Linked DNA regions of Homo sapiens. The protein of the gene in region 1 interacts with the protein of each later gene in a pairwise test. Each region holds a gene or a part of one and is shown in the gene's direction. Other genes may lie near its edges. The genes, in order: SGSM3, RAB5C, FMO3 and RAB5B.

What was found.
Region 2: the proteins of SGSM3 (region 1) and RAB5C interact in a two-hybrid assay, tested with the Homo sapiens proteins (one study listed by BioGRID).
Region 3: the proteins of SGSM3 (region 1) and FMO3 interact in binary tests that used the Homo sapiens proteins (3 or more experiments, as listed by UniProt).
Region 4: the proteins of SGSM3 (region 1) and RAB5B interact in a two-hybrid assay, tested with the Homo sapiens proteins (one study listed by BioGRID).

The regions. Positions count from the first base shown.
Region 1 is NC_000022.11:40,373,594-40,380,593, forward strand, and holds part of SGSM3 (small G protein signaling modulator 3), read left to right. Parts: intron 1-7,000. UniProt on the Homo sapiens protein: May play a cooperative role in NF2-mediated growth suppression of cells.
Region 2 is NC_000017.11:42,144,981-42,152,016, reverse strand, and holds part of RAB5C (ras-related protein Rab-5C), read left to right. Parts: intron 1-7,036. UniProt on the Homo sapiens protein: The small GTPases Rab are key regulators of intracellular membrane trafficking, from the formation of transport vesicles to their fusion with membranes.
Region 3 is NC_000001.11:171,107,905-171,114,940, forward strand, and holds part of FMO3 (flavin-containing monooxygenase 3), read left to right. Parts: intron 1-174; coding exon 175-317; intron 318-2,893; coding exon 2,894-3,093; intron 3,094-6,102; coding exon 6,103-6,458; intron 6,459-7,036. UniProt on the Homo sapiens protein: Essential hepatic enzyme that catalyzes the oxygenation of a wide variety of nitrogen- and sulfur-containing compounds including drugs as well as dietary compounds.
Region 4 is NC_000012.12:55,984,074-55,991,109, forward strand, and holds part of RAB5B (ras-related protein Rab-5B), read left to right. Parts: intron 1-2,795; coding exon of another isoform or gene 2,796-2,887; coding exon 2,888-3,050; intron 3,051-5,873; coding exon 5,874-6,025; intron 6,026-6,608; coding exon 6,609-6,731; intron 6,732-7,036. UniProt on the Homo sapiens protein: The small GTPases Rab are key regulators of intracellular membrane trafficking, from the formation of transport vesicles to their fusion with membranes.

The DNA.
Region 1 (7,000 bases):
GATAGGGCAGTTGTGTTTTTTGTTTTTGTTTTTGTTTTTTTGAGACATAGTCTCACTCTGTCACCAGGCTAGAGTGCAGTGGGGCAATCTCGGCTCACTGCAATCTCTGCCTCCCGAGTTCAAGCAGTTCTCCTGCCTCAGCCTCCCGAGTAGCTGAGACTGCAGGCGTGCACCACCACACCCAGCTAATTTTTGTATTTTTAGTAGAGACGAGGTTTCACCATGTTGGCCAGGATGGTCTCCATCTCTTGACCTCGTGATCCGCCCTCCTAGGCCTTCCAAAGTGCTGGGATTACAGGCGTGAGCCACCACACCTGGCCTGATAGGGTGGTTTATTTATTTTTATTTTTATTTATTTTATTTATTTATTTTTGAGACGGAGTCTCCCTCTGTCGCCCAGGCTTGAGTGCAGTGGCGTGATCTCGGCTCACTGCAAGCTCTGCCTCCCGGGTTTATTTACGCCATTCTCCTGCCTCAGCCTCCTGAGTAGCTGGGACTACAGGCGCCTGCCACCATGCCCGGCTAATTTTTTGTATTTTTTTTAGTAGAGACGGGGCTTCACCGTGTTAGCCAGAATGGTCTTGATCTGACCTCGTGATCCGCCTGCCTCGGCCTCCCAAAGTGCTGGGATTACAGGTGTGAGCCACCGTGCCCAGCCAATAGGGCGGTTTTTATAGTTTGAGAGTTGGGGAAGGAACACTTTATTGTGAAGATGTCACTGGACTGCCACCAGAGAGAAAGCTTAAATTGGTCTAGACTGTAGTGTCAAGACTGCGTGCTTAGGTATATACTTTTAGGGAAAAGCTGTATCCACTGAGAGATGACATGGTTGAAAGATACAGTATAGGCTTTAGAGTCTGACAGATCTGGTAACTGAGCTACAATTTCTTCTTTGTAATACTTGCCTGCAATGTAAGCTCTATGAAAGTAGGGGCTTTGTGTTGTTCACCACCTCACCCCCATCTCCTAGAACAGTGGTAGGTGAGCAATAAATATCTGTTGAATGGGGCCCAGTACGGCGGCTCACGCCTGTAATCCCAGCACTTTGGGAGGCCAAGGTAGAGGATTGCTTGAGCCCAGGAGTTCAAGACTGGTCTGGGCAACATGGCGAAATGCCATCTCGACCAAAAACATAAAATTGCCAGTCATGGTGATGTGCGCCTGTGGTCCCAGCTACTCGGGAGGCTGAGGCAGGAGGATTGCTTGGGCTCAGCTCAGGAGGTCGAAGTTGCAGCCAGCCATGTTTGTACCACTGCACTCCAGCCTGGGGAAGAGAATGAGACCTTGCCTCAAACAAACACATTGTACCAGTACTATCAGTAGTAGCATATGACTGAAATAACAAGGCTAGATTTTCAGTGTGGCTTATGAACTGATTTTGACAGCACCATTGTTTGAATGCTACATATATAATCACCTCCCCTTTTTGAAAATTTAGGCTTACTAATTTATGCTCACCATTTATACATGAGGAGAGATACATTCACCTCTTTTCAGTAGGCACAGTTAACTATTAACTGTCTCTTCTAATATATGCCTCTTTTGCAGTGATAAACATATTTCTGCTTTTTCTAAGTGTGATACATGTTTTGTATTTGTTTTTCTCTCTACTAATGATGTAAATTGTTTTGGGAGGTTAACTGCTTTGGAATAATTAAACAGCTTTATCAACAAGAGTAACTGATATCAGAAATTAGATTGATAGGCCGGTTGTGGTGGCTCACGCCTGTAATCCCAGTGCTTTGGGAGGCCGAGGTAGGCGGATCACCTAAGGTCAGGAGTTTGAGACTAGCCTGGACAACATGGTAAAACCCTGCCTCTACTAAAAATACAAAAATTAGCTGGGTGTGGTGGCAGGCGCCTGTAATCCCAGCTATTCGGGAGGCTGAGGCAGGAGAATCACTTGAACCTGGGAGGCATAGGTTGCAGTGAGCCGAGATCATGTCATTGCACTCCAGCCTGGGTGACAAGAGTGAAACTCTGTCTCAAAAAAAAAAAAAGAGATTGACACCCCCAATTCAGTGTCAAAAGTCTTATCTTGGAAAGGGTATAATTTCCAATTAAGACAGAGAATTTTTTTTTTTTCACTACAACAAAATTATGTGACTTTTCTCACCCTTCTCTAGATATCTAATTAGCCTGCAAGCTAACACTCTAAAGACATGAAACAGGCTGGGCTTATGTCTGTAATCCCAGCACTTTGGGAGGCTGAGGTGGAAGGATCACTGAAGCCCAGGAGGTCAAGACCAGCCTGGGCAACATGGTGAGACCCTGCCTCTACAAAAAAATTTCTAAAAATTAACCAGATATGGTGGCGTGTGCTTGTGGTCCCACCTACTCAGGATGCTGAGGCAAGAGGATCACTTGAGCTCAGGAGATTGAAGCTGTAGTGAGCTGTGATCACACCACACACCACACACTCCAGCCTGGGTGACAAAGGGAGACCCTGTCTCAAAAAACTGGAAAAAAAAAAACAAGATATGAAAGAACAGATCATTTCCCTTTTCCCTCTCTTGTGTTTGAGTTTCGTTTGTAAATATCCTTAATTATGTGACTTGAGGATAGGGTTAAAGTCAAATTACCACTTTTTTTTTTTTTTTTTTTTTTTTTTTTTTTTGTCTTTTGGAAACAGTACGGTAGTCGGAGCACCAACAATGAAGTTCAACTTACGGCTCTGCTGCTTGCTTCCTTGCTTGTCTGCTTGCTTGATTGATTGACAGGGTTTTGCTCTGTTGCCCAGGTTGGAGTGCAGTGGCATGATCATAGCTCACTGAAACCTCAAACTCCTGGGCTCAAGAGGTCCTCCTGCTTTAATCTCATGAGTTGCTGTGATTACAGGTGCATGCCACTGCACCCGGCCTGGCTTTACCATTGTAAACTTCGAGAACTTACAAGTTATCTGTCATGCCTCATTTCTCTCACCTGCAAAAATGGAATAATTAGTGCTACTCATAGTAATAGCTAATATGTATTAGGTGTTTGCTATATATACCAGTCACAGTTCTAAGAATTTTATTTGTATTAACTCACAATCCTCACATCAACCCTATGTATTGCTAGTATTATGCCCATTTACAGGTGAGACAACAGTGACAGAAACAGTAATTTGCTAAAGATTGGTGGAGTCAGGATTAGAACTTAGTCTGACTCTAGAGTTTATGCTCATAATCTCCACCTTCATAGTTTTTTGTTTTTTTTAATTTAGCATATAATCAAGAAATAGAGTAGTTTTGAAGATTAAATAAAATCTATATAAAATGGCTGTGACAAGCATTTACGGTATTAAGTACTACAGTTAGCTTCGAGTTTACAAAGCATTTTGCACACATTTTCTTTGATTGTCATAGGAATAACCAAATATGCTTGTGACCATCACTGTCCGGCAGGAAACAGGCACACATTTGGTCACTTTCCCAGTCATGCAGCATGTGTGCAGACAGTGCCCTGGTGTTGCTCCTCCATATCTAGATCATGTGGAATTTGAAGCATCACATTTTGAGAAAATTTAGTAGACATAAGTTGTTTTGGCCTGTCCAGCATCCAATCCAGGTTCTTCTGGGGATAACAGCTCAATTTTGCTTTGGAGAACAGTTCATCCCTGACCAACTAGGTGGTAGGCACATGGCCCAGGTCAGGCCAACAGATGTTAGGCAAATAGATGCTTTCCTCCTTTAATTTGAATCTTAGGTTGAATGACACAGTAACAAAAGTTCAATAAACAGTTGCAGCTCCTTCATCACAACCACAGGCTAATTCCTAATATCTGGGCACTAGAGCTGCTGTTGTTTTCAACGAGCTGAGTCTTCAGCTTTTCCTTGGTTTTATGTCCTACTACATATCCTTCCAATACATTCCTGTCTTTCATAACTTAAGTTACCCAAAGTCAGTTTTGGTGGCTTGCAGCTGAGACACCTTTAACTTTTACATGGCATGAGGTCATGTCATGTAAGAGTTAAAATAGGCCTGGTGTCGTGGCTCACGCCTGTAATCCCAGCCCTCTGGGAGGCCAAGGCAGGCGGATCCATTGGGCTAAGGAGTTTGAGACCCGCCTGGGCAACATAATGGGAACCTGTCTCTACAAAAAAAAACTTTAAAAATTATAAATAGCTGGGCATGGTGGCATGTGCCTGTAGTCCCAGCTACTTGGGAGGCTGAGGTGGGAAGATTACTTGAGCTTGGGAGGTCAAGGCTGCAGTGAGCTGTGATCGTGCCACTGTACGCCAGCCTGGGTGACAGAGCAAGACCCTGTCTCAAAAAAAAAAAAAAAAAAGTTAAAATAATCAGCTAACTTTAACCTGAAGAGGAGAGAAATCTTGGAGAAGATGTGGGTATCTTCAAATGTCTGAAGTATGTAGAATACAAAGTACCCCTAAAAAGACCAAAGAGTAGATATTACTAGCAAACAGATTTCTGCCCACGTTAAAGCCTAAGGCAGGGCTATCCACAGGTGACAGACTGTCTTGGTATGTGGAAATAGATACATCCACTAAATTGTTCAAGCCAAGACAAGATGGTCACCTGGGAGGAGTAATATGGGTTTAGTAATCTAATGGGGACTGGGTGTGGTGGCTCATGCCTGTAATTCCACTGCTTTGGGAGGCTGAGGCAGGATGATCGCTTGAGGCCAAGAGTTTGAGACTACCCTGGGCAACATAGCAAGACCAGCATCTCTACAAAAAAATAAGAAAAATTAGCCAGGCATGATGGTGTGTGCCTGTAGTCCTAGCTACTTGGGAGACTGGGGTGAGAGGATTGAGCCCAACAGTTTGAGGTTATAGTGAGCTGGAATAGTGCCACTGCATTCCAGCCTGGGTGACACAGCAAGACCCTGTGTATATTAAAAATAATAATATGGCCGGGCACGGTGGCTGATGCCTGTCATCCTAGCACTTTGGGAGGCTAAGGCGGGCAGATCACTTGAAGGTGGGAGTTCGAGACCAACCTGGCCTACATGGCGAAACCCCATCTCTACTACCAAAAATACAAAAAATTAGCCGGGTGTGGTGGCGCATGCCTGTAATCCCATCTACCAGGAAGCTGAGGCAGAAGAGGAACCCAGGAGGCGGAGGTTGCAGTGAGCTGAGATCACACACTGCACTCCAGCCTGGGTGACAGAGCGAGACTCTGTCTCAAAAAAAAACAGAACAAAACCAATAATAATAATCTAATGGGTTGTTGTACTGAATGAACTGTAAAGTTCTCTCCAATTCTGAGATCGTGATTCTCTGATTGAAATCTAAATCTGCAGACTCCGAGACCTAGAGTTCTTTTTAGAAGATTTACCTGCTTTTCCTCACTTTTCCAACCTAGTCTCTTATATTCCCGCTTCACCACCTATGTGCTGCTCTTTGTTTCGGACCTCTGCTTCCATCAGCTCCTCACCTTCTTCAGGTGTTTGCTCAGATTTTTCTTACTGAGCCTTCCCTGACTACCTAATTTAGAATAGCAGCTCCTGAAAGTGCCTATGGTTCTTCCTGCCTCATTTTACTCTGTAGCACTATTCATCTGACATACAGTGTGGTCTCTTATTAATTTTTTAAGTTACTTCTTTCCCCTCTAGAATGCTGGGACTTTCAAAGAAGGGATTTCTATCTATTTTGAGCACTTCTGTGTTCCCGACACTTAAAACAGTGCCTGGTACATAATAGGCACTCAATAAACATATGTTGATTGAATGAGTATTTCCTCAACACAAAGTCACCATTGGGTCTGCTTTGTGTTCTAGGAGAATATCTAGCTCATGCTGTCCACTTCGTACCTTTTCTCTGTTGCTTCCCTTACTCGCTGGTGCCTTTCTCTTTTCCTCTTCTCTTTGGATCACAGCATTTCAAGACTAGAAGTCTGAGATCACCTCTTCATAAGGACCAGAGTCCCTGTGTAACACAGCTAGTTAATGAAAGATGTGGGGTGGAGGGTGACTGACTGTTGGATTGTTTATCTCTGTTAAACTGTGGTCTCCCTAAGTCTTGCTCAGTTCAGGCCCGTGCAGTGCCTGCTGCAGCATATGCATATCCCTCAGTGAGTTATTAAGTAAATATCTTCCTCCTTCATGAAGGCTTTTCCATATCAACCTGTAGTTATCTCTTTATTTCTTTGAACTTTGGTAGTATTTGTGGTCTCTGTTCTTATTATTAAGGCAGGGTCTCACTTTGTCACCCAGGCTGGAATGCAGTGGCACAATCTCCACTCACTGCAACCTCCACCTCCCAGGCCCAAGCAATCCTCCCACCTCAGCTTCCTGAGTAATCTGGGACTACAGATTTGCACCACCACGCCCAGCTAATTTTTGTATTTTTTTGTAGAGATTGGGTTTCGTCATGTTGCCCAGGGTGGTCTCAAACTCCTGGGCTCAAGTGATCCACCCTCCTCGGCCTCCTAAAGTGCTGGGATTATAGGTGTGAGCCATCGTGCTCGGCCTGGTTTCTCTTATTAACTGGCCTTGGGTTGTTTGCCATTTTATGTGTCTGTCTGGTCAATGAAATTATAATCCCATGGACAAAGACTAAATGTACCTACTACAGAACCTAGTCCTGAGAGGCAGTATAAAGTAGTGAAGTGCTGTCCAAGAGAACTTTATACAGTGCTGGAAATGTTCTTGTATGACTATTAACATTTTTTTAATGCTGTGTGTGTATTTGTATGTGTGTGTGATTAAGTAATTACACTTATCTGCACCACCCAGGAATAATCAGTAAACATTCTGGCATTTATTTCTTTATTCATCTATTAATTGTACATTTTCTAGCTTTTTTTAACCATGAATATCTATAATTTTTTTTTTTTTTTTTCCTGAGACAGGGTCTCACTCTGTCACCCAGGCTGGAGTGCAGTGGCACTATCTCAGCTCACTGTAACCTCCGCCTCCCGGGTTCAAGCAATTCTCCCACCTCAGCATCCCGAGTAGTTGGGATTAGAGGCATGCCCCATGACACCTGGCTAATTCTTGTATTTCTAATAGAGATGGGTTTTCACCATGTTGGCCAGGCTGGTCTCGAACTCC
Region 2 (7,036 bases), on another chromosome or scaffold:
ATTTGGGGTCAGATGTGACCTGATCTAACAGTGGGCCCTTCTTCGGCCTGGTTTGTTCGTTAAATGAATGAACATGCAGACTGAGTGCGCCACGGCACAAGGGCAGACTCTTAACTCTTTAGCCCTCCTCATCACTAGCGCTCCTCTGTTTTTTTGTCTTCCCCAGCGTCTACCCGACCTCCTGTCTTCTCTCTTGACCCCTTTCACCTCTGCCTCTGAGGACCAAAACAGTTAGGAGTCCCAAGTCAGTACTCTTCAGGGCCTGAGAGTTTGCTGACATCTACATGTCATTAATTTTTCTGGGAACCTGAAAGTCCTAATGGCTAGAAAATGAAAGTTAAAGTGAGTAAACTCAGGGGTCCCACTGGGCAGGGTTAAGGGGGAAGCAACAGAGCGGGCCTCTGGTTAGTCCTCTGTTTCTCCTGTGGTGCTGCCTGCTGCTTGCAAGTGGGAAGAATGTGGCTTGCCACCAGGAGCTCCTGTCACTAGAATTTACATGGAAACAGAGCAAGATCATACATTTAAATTCAGCCCCACCAAGCAAGTACTTCTTAGACCTTCTACTTCTTTTTTTTTTTTTGAGTCGGAGTCTCGCTCTGTCGCCTAGGCTGGAGTGCAGTGGTGCGATCTTGGCTCACTGCAAGCTCCGCCTCCCGGGTTCATGCCATTCTCCTACCTCAGCCTCCAGAGTAGTTGGGACTACAGGTGCCCACCACCACGTCCGGCTAATTGTTTTGTATTTTTAGTAGAGATGGGGTTCCGCCGTGTTAGCCAGGATGGTCTCGATCTCCTGACCTCGTGATCCGCCCACCCTGGCCTCCCAAAGTGCTGGGATTACAGGCGTGAGCCACTGCGCCTGGCCAGACCTTCTACTTCTAACCCTTGCCCAGTAAACAGGCAGTGTGGTCGGGTGGAAGGCACTAGAACTTCAGAGGCAGTTGGACCTGAGTTCTCATCCTGATTCCCCCACTTACCAGTTGTGTGACCCTGGGCTTGTTACTTGACCTCACTGAGCCTGTGTTTCTTCTGGTAAAATGGGGATGCTAAATACCTTGCAGAATTAGAAACAAAGAAAGGAGCTAGTCCAGTGCTGGCAGACTGGATGCCCACAAAATAGCAGTTGCCTCTGATGGGTAGGTAGGGGTTTGAAGGTTCTTTTTTTTTTTGAGGCAGTCTCATTCTCATTCTGTTGCCCAGGCTCACTGCAACCTCCGCCTCCTGTGTTCAAGCGATTCTCCTGCCTCAGCCTCCTGAGTAGCTGGGATTACAGGCACCTGCCATCATGCCCGGCTAATTTTTTTTTTTGGTATTTTTGTAGAGATGGGGTTTGACCATGTTGGCCAGGCTGGTCTCAAACTCCTGACCTCAGGTGAGGTGATCTGCCCGCCTCATCGGCCTCCCAGAGTGCTGGGATTACAAGCATGAGCCACCGTGTCTGGCTGATTTTTTTTTTTTTTTTTTTTTTTTTTTTTGAGATGGAGTTTCACTCTTGTCTCCCAGGCTGGAGTGCAATGGCGTGATCTTGGCTCACTGCAACCTCTGTCTCCCGGGCTCAAGCTATTCTCCTGCCTCAGCCTCCTGAGTAGCTGGGATTATAGGCGTGTGCCACCATGCCCAGCTAATTTTTGTACTTTTAGTAGAGACAGGGTTCCTCTATGTTGGCCAGGCTGGTCTCGATCTCCTGACCTCAGGTAATTGTGCCCAGCCTCAACACTGATTCTGATTCAACATGTGTACCAAATGTATGCTGGGGCTGGGCACAGTGGCTCATGCCTATAATCCTAGCACTTTGGGAGGATCGCTTGATCCCAGGAGTTCAAGACCAGCTTGGGGGCCAGGTGTGGTGGATCACGCCTATAATCCTAGCACTTTGGAAGGCTGAGGCTGGGAGATCACCTGAAGTCAGGAGTTCGAGACCAGCCTGGCCAACATGGTGAAACCCCATCTCTACTAAAAATACCAAAATTAGTCAGGCGTGGTGGCACATGCCTGTAATCCCAGCTACTTGGGAGGCTTAGGCAGGAACCTGGGAGGCAGTTCAACCTGGGAGGTGGACGTTGCAGTGAGCCGAGATTGCACCACTGCACTCCAGCCTGGGCAACAGACCAAGAGTCTATCTCAAAAAAAAAAAAAAAAAAAACCAGCCTGGGCAACATAATGAGACCCCATGTCTAAAACAAAAACAAAATGTCTGCTGGGATGCCTTGTACATTGCTTGATGGTTTCACAAATTGTCTCATTTTGTAGACATTGAACAGAATTGATGTGGGTTGTATTCCCATTTTACAGAAGAGAACGCTGTGCCACTTCAGTTTTACTTAGTTGTAAGCGTTTTAATATTAAAACAGTCCTGTAACTATTATAGATTAGAATGCAAAGTTTGCATGAATTGAAGCTAACACAGGAAACTTTAATTAATTAATTAATTTATTTATTTTTGAGACAGGGCCTCTCTCACCCAGGCTGGAGTGCAGTGGGACGATCATGGCTTACTTCCGCCTTGATCTTGTGGACCCAAGTGATCCTCCCACCTCAGCCTCCTGAGTAGCTGGGACTGTAGGCATGTACCACCATGCCCGGCTAGTTTTTGTATTTTTAGTAGAGACAGGGTTTTGCCATGTTGCCCAGGCTGGTCTCAGAACTCCTGGGCTCAAGTGATCCTCCTACTTTGGCCTCCCGAAGTGCTGGGATTACAGGCATGAGCCGCTGCACCTGGCCAAAGACAGTATTTTGCTTGTAGCCAGCTGCTTTGGGTTCAACTCCCAGATTTCTGGGAGTTTCCTCTCCCCTGACTTGAGTGAAGGGTACATATGTTGGGGCTGTTTGAGAAGCACTGCTTTAGGTAGAATTTATAAACTAGGATGTGCCAAAATCCAGGTAATCATGCTTGCAAAAACCTTGGCAGAGGAGAATCGGAATATTTTTGGCATCCTCTGCATTAATAGCTTGGTATTGTAAGAGATTACTTTTCCAATTAAATAGCCCCATCCTCTATGTATAAGAACAGTAATACAAATAAAAGCTAAACTTCTATTTTTGCCATGTGCCAGGCACTCTTGTGAGCCCTATGTGTTGACTCCTTTAATCCTCCGACAACCCCAGGAGGTAGGTTCTGTGTTTAATCCCCATGTTAGAGTGGGGGACTATGTAGTAATGGCAGAGATGGGGTGTGCTCTTATCGCTATTCAATACAGCCTCTCCTTGACCCATCTCTGGGCTAAATGCCTACTGTTCACTTTGCCTAGAAGGCTCTTCTGCACCTCACGTGCCTGGAAACTGTATCTCCCTACTTTTCTCTCAAAGCTCAGTTTGAATGCCACTTCCTCTGTGAAGCCTTCCCTTGCCCCAAATGGGCTGAGGGCTTGTCTCCTACATGGGCTGTCTTCTCAACTGCTATCTCATTGTTCCTTATTTGCCTCATTCTCTGGTGGGTGAGCCCTTTAGGGGCACAGATCGGGTCCTGTTTGATCTTTGTGTGTTTAGGACCTGGCATGGCACTCAGCATAGTAGGCTCCCTACTGAAGTTGTTAAAGGAGAGGGCAGACATTCAAACCTGCCCTTAAAGCAAACACCAAACACCTGCCCACTTCTTTTTTTTTTTTTTTTTTTTTTTGAGATGGAGTCTTGACCTCTCACCCAGGCTGGAGTGCAATGGTACGATCTTGCTCACTGTAACCTCCGCCTCCTGGGTTCAAGTGATTCTCCTGCTTCAGCCTCCCTAGTACCTGGGATTACAGGTGTGTACCACCACGCCCATCTAGTTTTGTATTTTTAGTAGAGACGGATTTCACCATGTTGGCCAGGCTGATCTCAAACTCCTGACCTCATGATCTGCCTGCCTCAGCCTCCCAGTGCTGGGACTACAGGCATGAGCCACTGTGCCCAGCCTTGCCCACTTCTTTTTTTTTGTTTGTTTTTGAGACAGAGTTTTGCTCTTGTTGCCCAGGCTAGAGTGCAATGGCACAATCTCAGCTCACCACAACCTCCGCCTCCCGAGTTAAAGAGATTCTCCTGCCTCAGCTTCCCAAGTAGCAGGGATTACAGGCATGTGCCACCACGGCCGGCTAATTTTTTGTATTTTTATTAGAGATGGGGTTTCTCCATGTTGGTCAGGCTGGTCTCGAACTCCCAACCTCAGGTGATCCACCCGCCTCGGCCTCCCAAAGTGCTGGGATTACAGGTGTAAGCCACCATGCCTGGCCCTCGCCCACTTCTTTTAACACACACTTCCCTTCCTTTCTTCACACACTTTGGATGTCGTGAACCTATGATTCAAACTTAAATCCATCTGATCCCACAGCTTGAGCCATATCTTTGGTCCATCCCCCAGAAAGTTGCTCACAGACAAATGGGAGAGCAAACAGGTCAATAGGATCAATGTTACAGTACGGATGATGGGAAGCAAGTCACAAACTCAGTTTCCAGAAGTTAAGACTCTCCAAATCTCCATTTCTGGTGAAGGGTTTAATGGGACAATGAGGGCGCGGCCCTGACTAGCCACAGTCCGGCTGACTGGCTTCTGCCGTGTGTGTATCTGATGGCAGGACAGAACGACCGTGCTTCTGCAGTTGTGTGTGGTGAGGCAGCACCGACCCCAGACCAGTACTTAGCAAGGATCAGTGGAAGCAAATTTGACTCTGCCTGTGGATACTGTTCTGTATGTCTGCACAAGGCTCGTTCCTGAGTGAAGGTGGCTTAAAAAAGTGGTGGCAGCAGCTGTTCAGACCAGTGGTATGAGCAGCCCTCACATGTGTATTCCACAGATGGGGTCTTTAACATTCCCTGGTCCTGTGCCTGCAGTACTTGGATATCCTCTGCTCACCTTGAGGCTGGTCTTTCTTTCTTTCTCTCTCTCTCTCTCTCTCTCTCTCTTTCTTTCTTTCTTTCTTTCTGTTTCTTTCTTTCTTTCTGTCTTTCCTTCTTTCTTTCTTTCTTTCTTTCTTTTTCTTTCTTTCTTTCTTTTTCTGTCTTTCTTTCTGTCTTTCTGTCTTTCTTTCTGTCTTTCTTTCTTTCTTTCTTGACGAAGTCTTGCCTTGTCGCCCAGGCTGGAGTGCAGTGGTACGATCTCGGCTCACTGCAAGCTCCCGGGTTCATGCCATTCTCCTGCCTCAGCCTCTCGAGTAGCTGGGACTACAGGCTCCTGCCACCACGCTTGGCTAATTTTTTGTACTTTTAGTAGAGGCAGAGTTTCACCATGTTAACCAGGATGGTCTCCATCTCCTGACCTCGTGATCCGCCTACCTTGGCCTCCTTTTTTTTTTTTCTTTTGAAATGGAGTCTTGCTCTGTTTCCCAGGCTGGAGTGCAGTGATGCCATCTTGGCTCACTGCAACCTCCGTCTCCTGGGTTCAAGTGATTCTCCTGCCTCAGCCTCCCGAGTAGCTGGGACTACAGGCGTACGCCACCATGCCCAGCTAATTTTTATATTTTTAGTAGAGACGGGGTTTCGCCATGTTGGCCAGGATGGTCTTGATCTCTTGACTTTGTGGTCTGCCTGCCTTGGCCTCTGAAAGTGCTGGGATTACAGGTGTGAGCCACTGTGCCTGGGCAATTTTTGATTTTTTTGTAGAGACGGGGTCTCCCTATGTTGCCGAGGCTTAATAAACTTATTCTTTCAGAATACTTTTAGAAAAGTTACGCAGATAGTACAGAGTTTTCTCACAATCCCTCACACATAGTTTTCCCTGTTATTAACATCTTATGTTAGTACGTATTTTACATTAAAGTCCATCCTTTATTCAGATTTCCTTAGATTTTTACCTGATGTCCTTTTGCTGTTCCAGGATCCCATGTTACCTATATTCATTGTCTCTTTAGGCTCCTCTTGCTGTGCCAGTTTCTCAGACTTTTATTGTTTTTGATGACCTTGACAGTTTTGAGGAGTGCTGGGCAAGCATCTAAAGAGGATCTCGGCCAGGCGCGGTGACTCACGCCTGTAATCCCAGCACTTTGGGAGGCCGAGGTGGGTGGATCACTTGAAGTCAGGAGTTCGAGACCAGCCTGGCTAACATGGTGAAGCCTCATCTCTATTAAAAATACAAAAATTAGCCAGGCATGGTGGTACGCACCTGTAATCTCAGCTACTCAGGAGGCTGAGGCACAAGAATCGCTTGAACCAGGAGGCAGAGGTTGCAGTGAGCCAACATCGTGTCACTGTGCTCCAGCCTGGGCTGGAGACAGAATGAGACTCCGTCTCAAAAAAAATAATAAAAAATAAAGAGAATCTCTTCTCAACTGGGATTTGTCCAGTATTTTTCTCTTTTTAACAGAGTCTTGCTCTGTCAGCCAGGCTGGAGTGCAGTGGTGCAATCTCGGCTCAAGCCATTCTCCTCAGCCTCCCAAGTAGCTGGGACTACAGAAATGCACCACCACGCCTGGCTAATTTTTGTAGAGACAAGGTTTCACCATGATGTCCAGGCTGGTCTCAAACTCCTGAGCTCAAGCGATCTGCTCACCTCAGCTTCCCAAAGTGGTGGGATTACATGCGTGAGCTAACACGCCTGGCTGTGTCCAGTGTTTTTTTCATAAGTAGACTGTGCCAAGTTTTGGGAAGGAGGACCAGAGAGGTAAAGTGCTATTTTCATCACATCATGTCAAGGGTACATACAATCCACAAGCCTTTCCATGACTGATGTCAACCATGATCACTTGGCTGAGGTGATGTGTGTGAGGCTTCTCTGTAAAGTTGTTCTCCCCTTCCCCTTTCCATGCTGCATGCACCCTTTGGAAGAAAGTCACTGTGTAGCCCACACCTAAGGAACAGGGACTTATGTTCATGTTCCCCTTGTTGAGGGCGGAGTAGCTACATGAGTTACTAAATTATTTTTTCTTTTTCTGTTTTTTTTGAGATGGAGTCTCACTCCATCGCCCAGGCTGGAGTGCAGTGGCGCAATCTCGGCTCACTGCAAGCTCCGCCTCCCGGGTTCACGCCTTTCTCCTGCCTCAGTCTCCCGAGTAGCTGGGACTACAGGCCTATAGGCGCGCGCCACCACACCCGGCTAATTTTTTTGTATTTTTTTTAGTAGAGATGGGGTTTC
Region 3 (7,036 bases), on another chromosome or scaffold:
TTTTCTAAAAGTATAAGCAGGTTAAATTAAAATATACTTCTGTTATATCTAATATGCTTGGTGTGTTAAAATAGCACATTATTGTGACTGCATCTATTCACAAGGTCGCTTCTGTTAAAGTCTTTGTTTAAATATATGACTCAAACTGCCATGTATTTCTCACTTTTCACTCAGGACTAAACCACTTTAAAGGCAAATGCTTCCACAGCAGGGACTATAAAGAACCAGGTGTATTCAATGGAAAGCGTGTCCTGGTGGTTGGCCTGGGGAATTCGGGCTGTGATATTGCCACAGAACTCAGCCGCACAGCAGAACAGGTACTACTCCCCGGGTACTCGGGTGACTCTCGTTACTGACAGAAGAGTTATTATCGTTTGAAAGGTGTGATATGAAATGTGGGGGAGGAGGGAAGGGTATCTGATGTAAAGACTAAGTGGTATTTCACATAGCTGAGCTTCCCCAAGTAACAGGTGAGGTTTTAAATCACTTCATAGACAAAGGCAGAACATCAGCAAGGAGTAACTGTCATTCAACAATCTCCTTCTTCAAGACATTTGATGCCTAATATCTCGGATCAATTTCTCTAAAACTAGCACAGATTTAGGGTGAAGGTTATGACTCTTAGACTCGGGCAAGTCCTTCAATCTCTCTGAGGCAGGTTTCTCAATGGTAAAACAGATAAAAATAGAACCTACTTCTGGGCTTGTTATAAAGTTAAAGCTTTTGAACAAGACTTAAGCAATACAGAGTGGCTCATTTATTCATTCATTTATGATGCAGGCACACATTTATTCAATGACTACTTATTGAGGGCCTACTATGTGCCAGGCACTGGGTTGGGTGCTGAAGACAGTGGTGAACATAACAGGCATGATCCCTGCTCTGGAACAAGAGCTGCCACTGGAAAAAAAGGATAAACAAGTGATTCAGGCACTAAATGCTATGATTCCAAAACTGGATGCTTCACAAAGGAGGTAGAATAGAACCAGTCCTTGAACAATAAATATAAATCATGAGACTGAAGAGGCGACAGAAGCTGTTCTTAGAATTGGAAATGCCACAAGCAGAGGCAAGAAGACAAGAAAATGAGCATTGTATATTTTACTATTGTAGGTTATAGTTTCATCTTGCTGGAATGGAGGTTCTTAATGCTAACAATTTGTATGATGCATTATGGTACTCAAATACCTTCCTGTAAATGGGCTCCTTTGCTTGTGGGAAGAAAGTAGTTTTATAACAGAAAGGATAAATGAGGACCAGAAATGTCAATTGTCTTCTTGAAAGTCATTGAGAAAATTAATGTTTGAGCCACTGAAGGGTTACAGAACTGAAAGCCAAAGCTTCCGAATCCAAGGAACAGTAGTCATAGGATTGCGTTACAGGAAAGAAAGATTGGGATCAGATTATATCACATATTTTAAGGACTTGAATGACAGGATAAAATAGATTTCTGTGTAAATAAAGGTAAATCATTATTTCAGCTTCTTGGGTTTAGGAAATTTATGATGAACTCATAGTTTTCACAGATTTCTATTTGTATATGTGATTATTTGCATATGTGATAAATTAAAGGGAAGATCAATTTCAGAGGCTATTTAATTAATTGATCCTTTAGTCTCTTCTTTTTTTTTTTTTTTTTTTTTTTTTGGAGACAGAGTCTCACTCTGTTGCCCAGGCTGGAGTGCAGTGGCACAATCTCGGCTCACTGCAACCTCCGTCTCCCAGGTTCAAGCAATTCTCCCATCTCAGCCTCCTGAGTAGCTGGGATTACAGGCACCCACCACCACACCCCATACCCAGCTACTTTTTGTATTTTTAGTAGAGACAGGGTTTCACCATATTGGCCAGGCTGGTCTTGAACTCCTGACCTCAGATGATCTGCCCACCTAGGCCTCCCAAAATTCTGGGATTATAGGCGTGAGCCACCATGCCCGGACTCCTTTAGTCTCTTCTTGTCTAGTTCCTCTTATAACAAATGCCTTGAAGTGATATGGCATATAAAAATTGGTTTTAAAAAAGACAAAGAAAGCCTGAAAACTACACTATTATGGATTAGCATAACAGAAGGGGAAGGAAAGGAAACTGACATTTACTGAGCACATACTATCTGCCAGGTAACGTTAGCCATGTGACATAGTTTATCACATCGAATTAACGCTTACACAAATTTGATGAGGCAAATTCGATTCTCTCCATTTTAGGAATGAGGGAACAAGATTAGAGAAGTTAAAGGAATTTTTTCAAATCACATCATTAATAAGTAGGAGAGCCAGCGTTTGAGCGTATGGTTTTCTGATTCCAAATTTCTCACCTTCTTTCCAGATAGTAGCAGGCATTTTGCTTTAAAATGCCTATTTTGAGATCATAATTGCTTATTTGTAGACAGCAATAGTTAGATAAGTGCTAGGGAAAACGTGACTAGAATTCAGTTATTAGTCACCTGTAGCAGAGATTGATTAAAATATGAAAATTTGCCTGCAGCACTGTGACAGGGTGGCTGACCCTAAGATGTAGATGTAAAGTTCAGACGTTTATTTGGGAACACTCTCAGGATCAATACTTCCACAGGAAGGGAAGGAAGCTTCCATTTACTTTGAAGCTGGGATGGTCCTTTGGCATTGCCCCAATTTGAGGTGAGGGACTGGGCCTTTATACGCCCGCATTGACCAGTCACTAGATGGAGGAAACTCAGAAAGAGTAGAAGATGTTGGGTGAGGCCCCTCTCTTCAGCCAAAGCAATGGTCAAAAAGGACTGACAGCTGAGAGATGTCTTCTGACACCACTTTCTGCAGCTGGGGTAATAGATCCATTCCTCAAGAGGGATCTGGGGTGCTCACCAGAATATCCACTACAAATGGTCACTAATTTCATGGTTGAATTGGTGTTTTTTAAGGTCATGATCAGTTCCAGAAGTGGCTCCTGGGTGATGAGCCGGGTCTGGGACAATGGTTATCCTTGGGACATGCTGCTCGTCACTCGATTTGGAACCTTCCTCAAGAACAATTTACCGACAGCCATCTCTGACTGGTTGTACGTGAAGCAGATGAATGCAAGATTCAAGCATGAAAACTATGGCTTGATGCCTTTAAATGGGTAATGCAGAGCTAAACGTGATATGCCTGCTGGCTTTTAGTTCAGTGTCAACAACCCTTAATGTCCTGTAAGCCCAAAACAAATCAAAGTATTAGCAATCACAACTCATATATCAGAAGATAAAGAACTGCACAAATTAAGAGTGATTTCCTATTTTGCAATCCTCCTTACTATATTTACACAGCTGGAAAATTATATAATGCCTCAGGAATTAGTCCCGGGAGTAATGATAATCAAAGTTAACCTCTTTTAAGCATTTTATACATGTCAGAGATTTAGCAAGACTCTGCTAAGGCTCTGGCATATATTATTTCATTTTATCCTTACAATTATGAAGAGAGCTCTACTAGTATCTCCATTTTAGAGATGAGATAACTGCGTTTCAGTGTAGTTAATAACTTTACTAAGGTCCCACAGCCAGGAAGTAGAAGCAGCGTTCAAAACAAACCCAGATCTGCTGATTCTAGAGCCTCTCAGTCTTGGCCACTTGCTCTACTACCTGTCACTTAATGGCAAAGTTAAGCACATCAGGAGAACGTTTCATGTCCTACCTTTCCCTCTTCGTTTCATCACCCACCCCTTAATGGACCCCCTCTCACTAAACACATACTTACCAATGCTTGCATCTTCAGTCTCCTTCCCATCTTCTCCTATAACGTCCTCCAAGCCAGTAACATAACAAGAAATGACTTTGACAAGAGGTGAAAAACCCAAGTTACGAGCTGTTTTCATCAAAGTGAATTCATTAATTTGACAAACATTTATTACACGTTTATTATATGCCACATCCTGTGTTTAGCCCTGTGGATATAGTAGTGGACAAAACATGCAAAAATCCCTGTCCTCATGGAACCTACATTCTAAGTGGTGGGAAACAGACAAACAATAGCATAAGATCATATGGCGATGTGTGCTTTGGGGAAGAAAACAAAGCAGATAAAGGTAATGGCAAGTGCTGTCAGGACAATTTCCAATAGAGTCCTCAGAGTATGTCTCAGGGAGGAGACTTTTAAGAAAACCTCTGAAGGAGTTGAGGGAATGAGCCATGAGGGTCTCAGGGGAAGGGTATTCCAGACTGAGGACACAGCCAGGGCATTTACGGGCAGGGCTGGCATGATCAACAAACAACAATGGGGCTTCTCTTCCTTGAGAAAAGAGAATGAGGGGAGAATGCCAGGAGATAAAACCAGAGACATAAAAATTGTTGGATGGCGTGGGCCTTGTAGATCATTGTAAGGACTCTGGCTTTTACTCTGAAAGCAATGGGAAACTACAGCAGGCATCTGAGCAAATGAATTACAAGACCTAAATTAGCATTGCAGAGATTGATCGGCTGCTGTGGTCATCATTCAATGTAAGGGTAGGGCAAGGAAGGAAGTGAAAGGACCAGTTAAAAAGCTACTCTCAAAAACCTGAATCAGAGGGGATGTTGGTCTGGACCAAAATTGTTAGCAGTGAGTGGTCAGAATTGGGCAGATTTCTGGATAGCTTGAAGGTCGACCCAAATAGGATTTTCTGTGGACTGGATAGAGGATGAGAGAGCAAGGAGGGAGTAAGAATGTCTTCAAGATATTTGAAAAAGGATGACATTGACGTTTACTAAAATGTGAAAAACTGCAGGAGGAACAGAAGTTCAGTTTTAGACATATTAAAGTTGGAATGCCTATTAGACATTCTGGTAGAAGAATGTTGAGCCAGCAGTGGGAAACACAAGACAGGAGGGAGGCTCAAACCAGAAGTTAAAACTCTGGAGTCATGAGAAAATTTTTCCTGAAGAAATGGAACTAGATGACATCTCTTGAAGAATGCATGTAAATGGAGGAGACTAAAGGTCTGGGGACTGAGTCCTGAGGTATGCCATTGTCAGAAGTCAGGAAGAGGAGAAGACATCTGTGGGAGACAGAAAAAGAATAGCCAGCAAAGTAGGAAAGGAACTGAGAGAGAGTGATGACCTGGAAACAAAATGAATACAGTGTTTCAAGAAAGAGGAAACCATCAATTATGTTAAATGCTAAGTTGAGTAAAAGGGAAAGTGAGGGTGGACCACTGGATCTGGGAGCCTGATTCTGATGGCCTTGACAAGAGCAGTTTCAGCGTGGTGATGGAGTTTGTTCTCCAGTGGAATCTGCCTGTAGCACTCTCTCACAGCTCCCACAGCCATACAAGAACAACACTCTTTCCTTCAACTGTATTCACATTCATCCCTGGGTTCAGATTTCTCTGCTCCCACTACAGATATTATTGAATAAAAAGTAGTCCAAAGCTCTCTCTTTCCAGACTTGCAGTTGCCAAAGCCTCAAACTGGCACCCTCCCTCTGGCCTTATTTAAATTCCTGGGTGCTCCCTCCTTCACCTGATTGGTGCCTCTGTCTGCATGGGGCTCATACTTCATCCCTCAAGAGCCCAGCTGCAGCTCTCACACCTTTGACTTTCCTCCTCCTATTTGGTCTTCTCCACAGTATGATGACCATCTTGGAGTATACTGAATTAAGAATAACAGTTAACATTTTCGAGCTCCATGCATATGCTAGAGACTGTGCAAAACTCTTTATATCATTTAGGGAACTTCTGAGGTAGTACAAACATTACTGACATTCCAGATGAGAAATATGAGACACCAAGAATTTAAAAAACATAATCTCATCAAGGTTCCCACTGAATAAGTAGCAACTTTAAAAATGTAAACACCGAGGTACCCTCACTTCAGAGTTTTTCCTGAAACAGGCTTTAACAGGGAACTGGGCATAAGCCTTTATTCCGGGATTTGGAAAGAGCTCCATGGAAGAGAAGGATCACAGAAAATAGAGATGGGGCCAGCAAATAACAACTTCTCTTACTTCCCAATGTTGCCTCCCATCAATTTTGTTCTTCAGCCATATTGGAGATACTCTATGCCTCAGAAAAAAAAAATCTTGGGTCATTTTTTCCTTCCTTATCAATTTATATATGGACCAATAAAACAAGAGGGAAATATTACACTTCCAATAATTGTCTCTGTTTTCCATACAGAGTCCTGAGGAAAGAGCCTGTATTTAACGATGAGCTCCCAGCAAGCATTCTGTGTGGCATTGTGTCCGTAAAGCCTAACGTGAAGGAATTCACAGAGACCTCGGCCATTTTTGAGGATGGGACCATATTTGAGGGCATTGACTGTGTAATCTTTGCAACAGGGTATAGTTTTGCCTACCCCTTCCTTGATGAGTCTATCATCAAAAGCAGAAACAATGAGATCATTTTATTTAAAGGAGTATTTCCTCCTCTACTTGAGAAGTCAACCATAGCAGTGATTGGCTTTGTCCAGTCCCTTGGGGCTGCCATTCCCACAGTTGACCTCCAGTCCCGCTGGGCAGCACAAGTAATAAAGGGTAAGTCAATAAAGAGGCTCATGGATTGCGAAGATGAATGCCAGTGACAATAACTTTGGATCTTTGTGAAAACAATAATCCTAGTTACAAGGTCCCCTTCAGTTTTGAAAATTTATAATTCTATATTCTTTAGTGCTATATTTTGTTAGCAATTTAAAGTATACCAGTTTGGATTATTGTATGAAATACTACAAGATATTATTAGAGGAGGCATTTTGTGACTACAACTTCTTACAGCTGATAATTACCCAAGATCATTTATTAGACTTGAGACCACCAAAGCTCACATCCACTTAAGACTAAGTGAATGACAACTTTATAAAATTATGATTGCAAAACTCAGTAGAATTACATTGCTTGAAAAGTTCATAAGAAAATATGTTTACGAGCCAACATCCAGCCAACTTCAAATATCCACAGTCATGGAAAATATGATTGCTGGAAGGCAATGGCTTTTCTACTATTATTTTCTTCCCTGACAAAAAAAGGACAAACAGTGGATCAACAGAGGCAGAAAGTGCTAAGAACAAACAGTGGATCAATAGAGGCAGAAAGTGCTCAGTGTAGTAGATGATCAG
Region 4 (7,036 bases), on another chromosome or scaffold:
TGTGGTGGCACGATCTCGGCTCACTGCAACCTCCGCCTCCCGGGTTTAAGCAGTTCTGCCTCAGCCTCCCGAGTAGGATTACAAATGCCGGCCACCAACCACACCCGGCTAATTTTTTTTTTTTTTTTTTAGACTGAGTCTCGCTGTTGCTCTGTCGCCAGGCTGGAGTACAGTGGTGCAATCTCAGCTCACTGCAACCTCCACCTCACAAGTTCAAGCAGTTCACCTGCCTCAACCTCCCAAGTAGCTGGGACTACAGGCACGCGCCACCACGCCCAGCTAATTTTTGTATTTTTAGTAGAGACGGGGTTTCACCATGTTTGCCAGGCTTGTCTCAAACTCCTGACCTCCTGATCTGCCTGCCTTTGCCTCCCAAAGTGCTGGGATTACAGGCGTGAGCCACTGTGCCCGCCTTTTATTTTTTGAGACGGAGTCTCGCTCTGTCACCCAGGCTGGAGCACAGTGGCGCATCAGCTCAGTGCACCCTCTACCTTCTGGGTTTAAGCGATTCTCCTGCCTCAGCCTCTGGAGTAGCTGGGATTACAGGTATGCACCACCACACCCAGCTAATTTTTTTTGTATTTTTAGTGGAGACGGGGTTTCACCATGTTGGCCAGGCAGGGCTCGAACTTCTGACCTCAGGTGATCCACCTCAGCCTCCCAAAGTGCTGGGATTATAGGTATGAGCTACTGCACCCAGGCTGTGGCTGCTTTTTAGGAATATATTGATAACAACTAATATTGAGATATATTTTAATAGCTATTAGCACTATGCTAAACACATCTTTCACTTATTATTTGTAGCTATGAGGATGGTATTTTTTCCATTTTACAAAGGTAGAAGGTAAGGCTTAGAGAGGTAGAGAAATTCTCTTTATATCATATTAGTAATGATTAGTAGCTTAATATTTATTTAGCACTTAGTATCTATCAAATACTTAAAATACTTTAGTTATTTATATGCATTATCTCATTTAATCCTTACAACACCCTTATGAAGTAGGTGCTTATAAGGCTATTATCTCATTTTACAGATGAGGAAATGAATGCACACATATATTTAGTGACTTGCTCAAGGTTCATAGCTAGTAAGTAGAGCTGAAAAACAAACGTGGAGAATTGGACTCCAGAGCCTTTATTCCTCTGAATTGCCTCCTGTATGATTTTCTGTCTTTACGATCTAGTAAGTGGGGTTACTGAAAATTTTTAACCCCAGTTTAACTCCAGTCCCACTAATTGTGGTGACAAAATAATGATGTTTCCCCACATATGCCATAGAGTATGATGTCTGTGAAGTCACTAGGATCTGCTTTGGAAAAGCGAAAGAGTAATTTGAACAAGCAAAGTACAACTCTCAAGCAATGCTTAGGTTTGGGAGAGAGGTTTTTGCATGCTCTGCCTATGCTAACTTCCCTTTGAATTTCATAGTTCCTTTCCGCTCAGAGTCAGGATGATGAAATGTATTCAGATTTAGACGATTAGAATCTCAAAGTCCCAACTCTTCTCTCTGTTCCCTGCCCCACCAGCAGCTTTCTTAGCCCTCTTAGAAGATAGAGGAGCTGATTCAGTGTATTCTTTCATCAAATACTGATTGCTTGCAGACTTAACGCCCTATACCATCCTCTGGAGACTTCTGCATGTCTTTAGAAGGTATACCTTTCTCTGCCTCTAATTTGGAGGGCTACAGCTGTTAGGCCCCTTTGGTGTGGAGGGTAATCTAATCCCTAGGCACCAGCAAGACAGCTGCAAGTTGAGAGTAGGTCAAGCTTACTGATTCTTGATAGACTTTCAGATTTGGAAAGATGGCAGAAACAAAGTGAAAAAAGAGTTGTTAATGAAACAAAGAGTTGATAATGAATGTGATCTGTTGGTTGTATTTCTCTCTTTACCTTCAACCAAAAATGAGAAAGGATAGATTTTGTGGCAATGGGACCCTGGTTAGATCTTTAGAAATGTCTTATCAGGGAGACCGGTCATATATAAAGGATACAGCAGCAACTACCCTTCTGCCCTTAGGAGTGGTGACTCTTATCCCACACCCCTAGAGTGAATCTCTCATTTTGACAAAGAGCTAAGGAAAAATGAAAAGAAGGCCAGGCACGGTGGCTCATGCCTGTAATATCAGCACTTTGGAAGGCCAAGGCGGGCAGATCACCTGAGGTCAGGACTTCTTAGACTAGTCTGACCAACATGGAGAAACTCCGTCTCTACTAAAAATACAAAATTAGCCAGGCGTGGTGGTGCATGCCTGTAATCCCAGCTACTCGGGAGACTGAGGTGGGAGAATTGCTTGAACCCGGGAGGCAGAGGTTGTGGTGAGCCAAGATTGTGCCATTGCACTCCAGCCTGGGCAACAAGAGTGACGTCTCAAAAAAAAAGAAGAAAAGGAAAAGAAGAGCACAGCACCAGGATGCCAAGGAGATACTGGGGATCTAGGGTACCGGTGGGTGGATCTGGATATTCTTCAGGCCAGCTAAAGGTTGATCACTTTGTGTGACTCAAACAAAAAACTTTGAAGACCTGGTGGGGAATTACTGGGGAATTAAAAACTCTCAGTTTTCAGTCTCTCTATTTCGGCTCCCTTGGCAGTTAGAGATTATGTGGTAGGGCAGACTCCAGAAGCAGTTCTTATTTTGCTCTTCCCAACTCTTACCACTGAGGATCAGCTGCCTGGGACCTTCTCAGAGCTAAGTCCTCATAGAAGCAAGGAGATGAAGAGGTTCTATCCTTCTCTGAAAAGCGATTGCAGCTTCAATGGACGTATGTTTAATTTTATTCACTTTTTTTTCTTGCAGGAGTGTTGAAGCCTGGAAATCCCCTCCCCTTCCCCCTCCCCCCTTTACAGTATCCCCCTCCCTCCACCCTTTCCCATTCTGATAATCTGGCCATGACTAGCAGAAGCACAGCTAGGCCCAATGGGCAACCCCAGGCCAGCAAAATTTGCCAGTTCAAATTGGTCCTGCTGGGAGAATCTGCAGTGGGAAAGTCAAGCCTGGTATTACGTTTTGTCAAAGGGCAGTTCCATGAGTACCAGGAGAGCACCATTGGAGGTGAGTGCCTTGGGGTAATAGGAGATTGAATGTTTGGTAAGGGTTTTTTTTTTTTTAGATGGAGTCTTGCTCTGTTACCCAGGCTGGAGTGCAGTGGCGCAATCTTGGCTTACTGCAACCTCTGTCTCCCAGGTTCGAGCGATTCTCATGCCTCAGCCTCCCGAGTAACTGGGATTACAGGTGCACACCGTGGCACCTGTCTAATTTTTGTATTTTTAGTGGAGAGGGGGTTTCACCATCATGTTGGCCAGGTTGGTCTCAAACTCCTGACCTCAGGTGATCTGCCTGCCTCGGCCTCCCAAAGTGCTGGGATTACAGGCGTGAGTCACCACGCCGGGCCGGTAAGGCTTTTGAAAAGAGATATAAGACCTGATTATGGAGCTGGCCCTCTTAGTCCCATTCTTTTCCCCAGAAATGGAAACCCTTTATAAAAACAGAGGCCGGTCCCAGTGGCCCACCACTTTGGGAGGCCAAGATGGGCGGATCACCTGAGGTCAGGAGTTCGAGACCAGCCTGCCCAACATGGCGAAATCCTGTCTCTACTAAAAATACAAAAAATTAGCCAGGCGTGGTGGCAGGCGCCTGTAATCCCAGCTACTCGGGAGGCTAAGGCAGGAGAATCACTTGAACCCAGGGGGCAGAGGTTGTAGTGAGCCGAGATTGCGCCACTGCACTCCACCCTGGGCGACAAGAGCAAAACTCCATCTCCAAAAAAAAAAAAAAATCAAAATCTGGTAAAATAGGCTGGGCATGGTGGGTCACACCTGTAATCCCAGCATTTGGGAGGCCAAGGCAGGCGGATCACTTGAGGCCAGGAGTTCAAGACCAGCCTGGCCAACAAGGTGAAATCCCCGTCTCTACTAAAAATACAAAAAATTAGCTGGGCGTGGTGGCACATGCCTATAATTCCAGCTACTCAGGAGGCTGAGGTAGGAGAACTACTTGAACCCAGGAGATGGAGGTTGCAGTGAGCCAAGATTGCGCCATTGCACTCCAGCCTGGGTGACTAGAGTGAAAATCCGTCTCAAAAAAACAAAACAACAACAACAACAACAAAGATTAGCCGGGCATGGTGGCACATGCCTGTAATCCCAGCTACTTGGGAAGCTGAGGCAGGAGACTCGCTTGAACTCATGAGGCGGAGGTTGCAGTGAGCCAAAATCACGCCAGTGCATTTTATCCTAGGCGAAGGAGCGAGACTGTTTCAAAAACAAAAAAAAATCTGGTAAAATAGAGGCTGGAACTAATGCAAAATACAAAGGGTGTCTGTCTTTCTCATCTTTGCTACCTTTTCCCCACTACTACCCCAAAATAGGGTGCTAATTCAATAAAGGATCTTTTATGAGAACTTCCAAATTATTCCTTCCCCTTGTTATTTTTATTTATTTATTTATTTATTTTTGAGACGGAGTCTCTGTCGCCCAGACTGGAGTGCAGTGGTGCAATCTTGGCTCATTGCAACTTCTGCCTCCCAGGTTCAAGTGATTCTCGTGCCTCAGCCTCCTGAGCAGCGGAGATTACAGGCACATACCACCATGCCCGGCTAATTTTTGTATTTGTATAGAGACAGGGTTTCACCGTGTTGGCCAGGCTGGTCTCAAACTCCTGACTTCAAGTGATCCACCCGCCTCGGCCTCCCAAAGTGCTGGGATTACAAGCATGAGCCACCGTGCCTGGCCTCTTTCCCCTTTTTATTAGTCATCTTGGAAATGTATTCCTGGACCTGCAGCAGATTATATGAAAAAGTAACAGCCAAATAATATTGATAATGATGGGACTTGCCATCAAGCTTTAAAATCTTCTAATTAATTCTTTTTTTTTTTTTTTTTTTTTTTGGATACTGAGTCTCACCCTGTTGCCCAGGCTGGAGTGCAGTGGTGCAGTGGTTGCCCATTGCAACTTCCGCTTCCCCAGTTCAAGCACTTCTGCTGCCTCAGCCTCCCAAGTAGCTGGAATTACAGGCGTCCATCACCATGCCTGGTTAACTTTTGTGTTTTTAGTAGAGGCGGGGTTTCACTATGTTGGCCAGGCTGGTCTCGAACTCCTGACCTCAAGCCATCCACCTGCCTTGGCCTCCCAAAGTGCTGGGATTACAGGCATGAGCCACTGCGCCCAGCCAATCCTCTAATTAATTCTTTTGTTTGTTTGCGTTTGTTTGTTTGTTTTTTGAGACGGAGTTCCGCTCTTGTTGCCCAGGCTGAAGTGCAGTGGCGCCATCTTGGCTCACTGCAACCTCCACCTCCCAAGTTCAAGGGATTCTCCAGCCTCAGCCTCCCGAGTAGCTGTGATTACAGGTGTCCACCACCACGCCTGGCTAATTTTTGTATTTTTAGTAGAGACGGGTTTTGCCGTGTTGGCCAGACTGGTCTCGAACTCCTGACCTCAGGTGATCCACCTGCCTCAGCCCCCACCTCCCAAAGTGCTGGGATTACAGGCGTGAGCTACCGTGCCCAGCCCAATCTTCTAATTAATTCTTGATGTGACTTTTATCTGAAGCTATTTTCTCTGTCATTTGTTATTCTCCTATTTTGGTTAGAAGAAGGATGACTCGTATAAGTGCCAGTTCTTCTGTCCCTCTTAGTTTATGATGTACCCCCATTCCTTAGCTAGTGACATTTCTGGCAGGAAGGACTTAGCCAAGGGCAGTCTTAATCCTGGTTTCAAGACTTACATGTAAGGAGAACTCAAAACCTTTTCCTGTAGCTGACTATCCTGGGTGGTGACTGGTCTTAGTGTAGGGCAGTTACATTTTGAAGGGGGGGAGGGATGTTCCCATTCATCCTCCCACTTACAGCATCTTCCCCTCCATTCTCTCATCCATAGCGGCCTTCCTCACCCAGTCCGTTTGTCTAGATGACACAACAGTGAAGTTTGAGATCTGGGACACAGCTGGGCAGGAGCGATATCACAGCTTAGCCCCCATGTACTACAGGGGTGCCCAAGCTGCAATCGTGGTTTACGACATTACTAATCAGGTAAGTGAGCTAAGAAGACTGTCCTTGTTGGCTGGACATGGTGGCTTACGCCTATAATCCCAACACTTTAGGATGCCAAGGCGGGAGGATCATGAGGTCAAGAGATTGAGACCATCCTGGCCAACATGGTGAAACCCCGTCTCTACTAAAATTACAAAAATTAGTTGGGCGTGGTGGTGCGCGCCTGTAGTCCCAGCTACTCGGGAGGCTGAGGCAGGAGAATCGCTTGAACCCAGGAGGCGGAGGTTGCAGTGAGCCGAGATCGAGCCACTGCACTCTAGCCTCGGCGACAGAGCAAAACTCCGCCTCAAAAAAAAAAGAAAAAAGACTGTCCTTGCTTATATTTAGAGGAGTTAGTTTGGGGCAGGGGGTAAGGGGGCAGAAAACGGGTTCTTGAAATAGCAAATAAGAGTACAAATTATGCTTCCAAGTGCTAAGAAGACAGATAATGAATTATCAGAGACCTGTGGTTTCACTGAGGGAAGACCACCTAGAAGAGGTGAATTTTGAGACTCATTTTAAAAGGTGATGGATATGGATTGGCAGTCATTCCAGCCTACTCATTCTCTTCATGTTTTCCTAGGAAACCTTTGCCCGAGCAAAGACATGGGTGAAGGAACTACAGCGACAGGCCAGTCCTAGCATCGTTATTGCCCTGGCAGGGAACAAAGCTGACCTGGCCAACAAACGTATGGTGGAGTATGAAGTAAGGTGGCCCGTGGAGTTCCTCTCTAACACTTCCTCTGTTCCTGGGACCTCTTTTTTTCCAAACCAGCCCTCTCTGAAAACGTCAACAGAGGACATTCATTGTCTCATTCCCCAGTTCTACACCAAGTTAAATACAGCAACACTGTGACCCTAATGACAGCCAGGAGATTTTCAAAGGAGTCAGGAGAAAACTCCAGAGCAGAGGGTTAGGGAGGTACCAGCTGTGGGGGTACCAGTGTGAAAACAGGAAGGAGGGAGCAATTAAATTTGTGGTAAGGGACTATTCAAGTGTCACAACCCAAA